2 separate regions of the Homo sapiens genome follow, and region 2 is linked to region 1. The links come from fine-mapping of genetic effects on gene expression. Tissue or cell type: whole blood. Region 1 holds a variant in brackets; the other region holds the start of a gene. All regions are shown on one strand. Distances are from middle to middle.

What was found.
Region 2: it holds the start of EIF4E3, and the variant in region 1 is fine-mapped to the expression of EIF4E3 in whole blood (TOPMed, PIP above 0.99).

Annotation. Positions count from the first base shown.
Region 1 is chr3:71,751,034-71,753,934 of GRCh38, forward strand. It overlaps GPR27 (G protein-coupled receptor 27), which reads left to right and starts at 2,822. Exons shown (of 1, transcript NM_018971.3): 1 at 2,822-2,901. It also overlaps a transcript of EIF4E3 not described here. The variant T/C (reference allele first, on the strand shown) is at 1,652.
Region 2 is chr3:71,723,858-71,726,758 of GRCh38, forward strand. It overlaps EIF4E3 (eukaryotic translation initiation factor 4E family member 3), which reads right to left and starts at 1,545. Exons shown (of 7, transcript NM_001134651.2): 1 at 1,335-1,545. The coding sequence starts at 1,510. RefSeq lists silencers at 950-1,069, 1,200-1,269.

The DNA of each region.
Region 1 (2,901 bases):
TTACAGGTGTGAGCCACCGCATCCGGCCTCTACAAATAATTTTTTAAAAATTAGCGGGGCATGGTGGTATAAGCCTGTGGTCCCAGCTACTCAGGAGGCTGAGATAGGAGGACGGCCTGAGCCTGGGAGGTTGAGGCTGCAGTGAGCCATGATGATGCCACTGACTCCAGCCTAGGTGACAGAGTGAGACCCTGTTTCAAAATAAATAAAGTCAGACTTCCAGCTCTTACACTTACTTGAAAGTAAGTGTAAAGTAAGTGTAAGTGGTGAAAGCGTGAACAAATTAACCCTTCTGCCTCCTCTGCAAAATGAAGACAGTAACAGCACATACCACATCTGGCCATTACAATGATTACATTAAATAACACATGTCGAGAATTTAGCACAATGCTTGGCATACGGCAAGTGCTCAGTAAAAGGTGGCTGCCATTAGTATTACCATAAAGCAACCAGAGTTGGTGAATTTGTGTGGGTTATTAAGAAGGCATTCCCTCCTCTGGGCAGAGGCAGCCCAAGCGCTAAGGGCCACAGCAAGGCAGGATCGAATTCTCTACAGCCATGGGTCTAACTTTAAACAAAGAAATAAGAAACCATTTCCTACCCTCCCTTGCTCAAGTGCTCACTCTCAATTGATAGCCAATGATATGTTTAAGTGTTTGTTTATAATGTAGGGCTTCTAGAAAGCTCTTCCTACTTAGATGGCTGGAATATTGCTGCTCTTTTCCCTTTTCTTCTTTCTGCCTGGAATGAAGAAATGATGGCTGGGGCGTCGGCAGCCTACTGTGATCATGAGGGAAGGGCTAAAAGATTTTCAGAGATTCAGTCCTTGAGCCAATAAATCAATGTCAGCAACTACTGACCTCCAAACTTCTTCTTTCACGAGGAAAATAAACTCATGTACACGTTTTTTGCTACTAGTATCAAACTGCAATTCCTAACCCATACACCCTCCAAAATCTATTTTCTATCAACATACATTTACAGATGTGCCTGGTCAGCCACTTGCTGCTGGCCACTTAGGAGTCCCAAGTCAGGTGCTCAATAGTTGATTTTCTTGAAAAATCACTTAGATTTTTAAAAAAATATCCAAACTGTCCCCAAGGGCCTTACTATTCAAAGTAAGGTCAGCAGACCAACAGCATTAGTCTCACCCCGGAGCTTGTTAGAAATGCAGAACCTCCGGCCCCATTCCAGAACTACTAAATCAGAATCTTCATTTTAACAGGGTCCCCAGTGATTTCTGCACATAGTGAAGTTTGAGGCTCTGGACTAGGTTTACCGGCTCTGCTCTGTCATCCCTCCTCAACACTGCTGCCAGAATAATGTTCCTGGAGCACACCTAGTCATGTCGCTCCCCTTCTCAAAAGATTTCAAGGGCTCCTGACTGCCTGCAGACTAAAGTTTCGACTTCTTAGCCTGATCATTAAGGCCCTCTATGATCTTGCACTATCCTGAAAATGCCCATCAAGGTGCCTGCCTTGCATGTAATCAGTAGGCAACAAATAATTTTCTGCACAGAAGAAAAAACAAATGAGTGTGGGTGAGAAACAATGCGTTGCTTAATTCTGGCTTTACCATGCTAAGCACTGGGGATGCAGTGGTACCAAAAACCAGGCATGATCCCTTGCCTTCAAAGAGCTTAGAGCCTAGT[T/C]AGAAGAGCATGATTTTTAAAAAGAAATGAAAGTATATAATGACAAATTATAAGTGCTAAGAAGGAAATGACTAGAGGGCAGGGATACAGAGTAAAACAGACGGGTTAGAAGGAGGCCCTACGGAGAGGGAGCCTGTTGTGGGGCTGGTCCAGGCAGAGGTACCAGCACATGCAAGGTCCTGCGAGACAAATGCGGTGTGTCTGAGAATCATAACAGGGGCTGCCCTTTCAGGCTTACCCAGAAAATAGATATCCTGGGAGGAAGGTGGCATAGGGTTCACCTTCCAAGTCACTTAAAGATGAAATGCTGCATTTCTTTTCCCTGATATAGGTCCTTCACCGGGATCACGGATGAGTTAGCGAGCAGGGGATGCTGCGGAGTCGCTGTGAGTCCAGCACTGGAAATCAGACCAAGCGAAATTTGAATCCCAGCTCCGCTACTTCCCGGCTCTCAACTCCCTTGACCTCCAAGCCTCTGCTTCCTGAGGTATAAAGTGGGATTAAGGATGGCAACAACTTCGTGATTACTGTTGAGGGAGATAATGCTTGCCAAGCTCCCCAGCACACTGCCACCCACATCAGTGCGCACCTGAGTATCAGCGGTTTTAGGATTACGATGACTATTACTATCGTAAATTACTCCCAGCTTTCGGGCAGAAGGCTCATTCCAGATATTCCTGTCCCCTCTGAGGCCTCCCGACCCTGCCAGCCCAGGCAACCTCCCCCGCGCACGGCCACCGTGACCCCAGCGCGGGCGCCGCCGCCGGACCCCCGTTACCTGGGGCCAAACGCGACTTGTCGCCACCTTGCGTCCTGGGCCCTGCCTCCCTCCCGGCCGCCTCCCGACCCCGCGGCTGCTGCGGAGGCGCCCCCAGCCCAGCCGGGCCCAGGCGGTGCGGGATGCCTCGGCGGGGCTGGCGGCGGCGGCCGCGCTGCGCGCTCCGGCGGAGGGGAGGGGGCTCCGCGGCGGCGGCGGCGGCGGCGGCAGCGGCGGCAGCGGCGGCGGCGGGCCCGGCGGGGGGCAGAGCCAAGAGGCGCGGCGGCAGCAGCGGAGGAGTAGGAGGAGACGGAGGAGGATGCGGGGGGCTGCGGACGGTGGCGAGGCCCTGTCCGCAGTGAAGCCCGCGGCGCCTAGGGCGCAGGGAGTGGCCGCCTCCTCCTGCGCGCACCATTCCTGAGATGGCGGCGGCGGCACAGCGGCGGCTCGGGGAGCCCAGGAGGGGCCGGCCGGGAGCGGGCTGAGCCCCGCA
Region 2 (2,901 bases), 27 kb before region 1:
ACTCACTCCATCTCCCCCACCCCCAACTTTTTTGGGTCTCCGGCAAAGAAAATGGCAGCAAGTGACAATTCTTATAGACGGGTGCTATAAGAACCCAAAAGGAAAAAAGAAATGAGCTTGTCTTAACCAAAAAAAAAATGAATATCACTTTTTTAAAACAAAATCTTGCAGTCATTTTATGCAAAGCCTTTTAAAACCAGATTTGTGTGTACCAAGCAAACTTCTCAGAACACTGTCACACATTTCTTCCTAACACTTAGCCAGAATAGACACGGTTTCATCAAAATTTCCAAATGCTCTTGGGACAACCTTGAGGTGTCATCATTGGGCACCCACTGCAGGGCAGACACTAAGAAGGGGCTTTGCATTCATCCATCTATTCATTCATAACAATTTCTGGTGTTCTTACTAGGGACCAGGCACAGTTCTAGGTCCAAAATGTCCAAAAACAAAAATCCACTGCTCTTTTATCCTTAACTGAGGGGAGGTGTTGAGGAGCTGGGGAGACAGACTGAAAGTAAACAAATTCATATATAATAAAATCCAGCTGCATTAAGCATTAGGAAGAAAAAGAAGGCAGGGCAGGAGAATACAAAACGAGGGAGCAAGGTTTCTATTTTAGATACGGTAGTCAGGGGGTCTTTCTGAAAAGATGGCACCTGGGTTGTCCCTTGAGAAAGCCATAATTCACCCCCTTCCTGACAAGGTCAGCTGCTGCTCATTATTGAATCTCCAGCGCATAGCAGGTGTGTGGCTCCACTGTAGGTGTTCAGGAAATACCTGCCCAGTGGATGAGGAAGAACTGGAAGAGGAGTCCACGGCAGCAGCGGCCGGACACGGGGTGGGAGCGCCCGCCGTGCAATAATCATTGCACCACCGCACACCTCCCAAGGGATGGGCAACTTTTCCGAGCGCTGTCACAGCTGAGGTCGTGTCCTGAGCTCCCAGGCGCCCCGCGGGGTAAGCAGGACAGCCCTCTCCCTGCAGCAGGGACGCGGCCACCCCCAGCTCGCCTACCCTCTCCCACGGCCCTGCCAGCACGCCGCGTTCCGATCGGAAGGGAACAAGGGGTAGAAAGTGTTGCCGAAACTTTTCGGGCTGCGCTGTCCTCCCCCGGCCCGGAGGCGAGGACGCCGAACAGCCGCCCGGCGCGGCCCGAAGCTGGCTTCCGACCCGGCGGGGCGAGTCCCGGGGTGCGCAGGCGGACGCGCGGAGGGGCCGAGGTCTGTGCCACAGCGGAGCGGGGCCGGGGCGAGGGGCCGCGCCGAGACAAAGCGGCGGTGGCGGCAGGACCCGGGTCGGGGCCGTGCGCGGCGGGCCCCGCGCCCCCTCACCTGTCGAGCCAGAAGGTCCAGGACGAGTGCAGCGGGACCCCGCCCGGCTCAGGCTGCAGCGCCGACAGCTGCTGCAGGCCGAGCGGCGGCTCGGGGGCGGCGGCAGCGGCGGCGGCGCGGGACCCCGGCGGCTCCCGGGCCCCGGCGGGGGGCGCGGCGGCCGGGGGCAGCGCCATTTTCTCCGCCCCGCCTGCAAGGCCGGCGGACGCGCGGACCGCGGGGCGAGCGCGGCTGAGTCACCCCCGGCCCCCGCCCCGCCCCGCCCCGCGCGCCCCGCCCCGCCCCGGGCTAGCCGCCCGCCGCCCGCCGCCCGCCGCCCGCCGCCTTCAGGGCCTGGGAGCCGCGCGGAGGGGCCGTGGGAGGCACGGCCGGGCCGGGGCCGCCGAACAAAGACAGACCCACGGAGGGATGGGGGGCCGATCCCGCTCAGGCGCGGGCCCAGCGTGGGAGACTGACGGCCTGGCCTGGAGTGGCGGCCGGGGACGGGCTAGAGGGCCCACGGGGGTGAGAGGGACCGGGGAACGGTCTGCGGGCTGGCTCTGCAGCCATGCAAAAGGGCAGCGGGATGGAGCGGCAGGCTAGGGACAGATGGAGGGATGGATGGGACAGGGGATGGAGCCCCAGACCCACGTGGTGCGAGGGAAGGAGGGATGGACAGACATACCAGCAGTCAGAAGGATGGAGTGAAGGCTGGCAGATGGCTGGAGGAGAGAAGGAGGGATGGAGGGCAGATGGAAGCACAGTTGGGTGTGACAGATAAATGGAGAGGGGAACCGATGGCCAAATGGATAAAGAGACTCCAGTGCCCGCGAGTACAGAACAAAGGGCGAGAAAGAAGAACGAACAAGAGAACCACCGACTGGGGCATGAGGTTGGAGCAGGTGGGCTTTGCATTCCTCTTGGTGAGAGCATACTTCCTAACTCCGCTGATTTGAAGGGGCCAGAGCCCCCATCCCAACCTCTGGAGCTACCATGTGACCACAGTGAAGGCCTCAAGCCTGGCTTAACGTGTGGCTAACTTCAGAGAACATTTCCCAAAATCAGCCAAAGTATCCAGATCTGCCCTAAAGCACCGGCGAGTCGGGAGGAGGAAAGCGGGCACCTGTGAACACAGAGCGCTCTGCTTCCTGTACCTCTGAGCACCCAGGAAGTCCCTTAGGCGGTGAGATTCCTGAGCCCAAAGTAGGAGGGGCCCTCCTAACACAGCATCTCCCCAGGTCTCTGTCACTTTCTTTTTCAAAAGAAAAGCAAAGGCATGAGGCCTGTGAACACACATGTCACAACCAGCATGGACATCCTCTTTACACTTGAATTTCTAGATAGTTCCTCTCTGGCTTTGAACAGTGAAGGGCGTGGGATGCCATCTCCTCATTGACCTTCTACCTGGCCTAGCATGTGTTCTGTTCATGCCTTGAGCATTCGCTGGGATGGAAGAGCTACAAAACAAGATGAGTTCAGGGGCATCAACAGCATCATAGCAGACTGTCATGAATCCCAGAGTAGATGCCCTCCCTAAAAGGTAATCAAGGTCACATAAAGTGACAATAATAAAAACAAGACCGCTGCT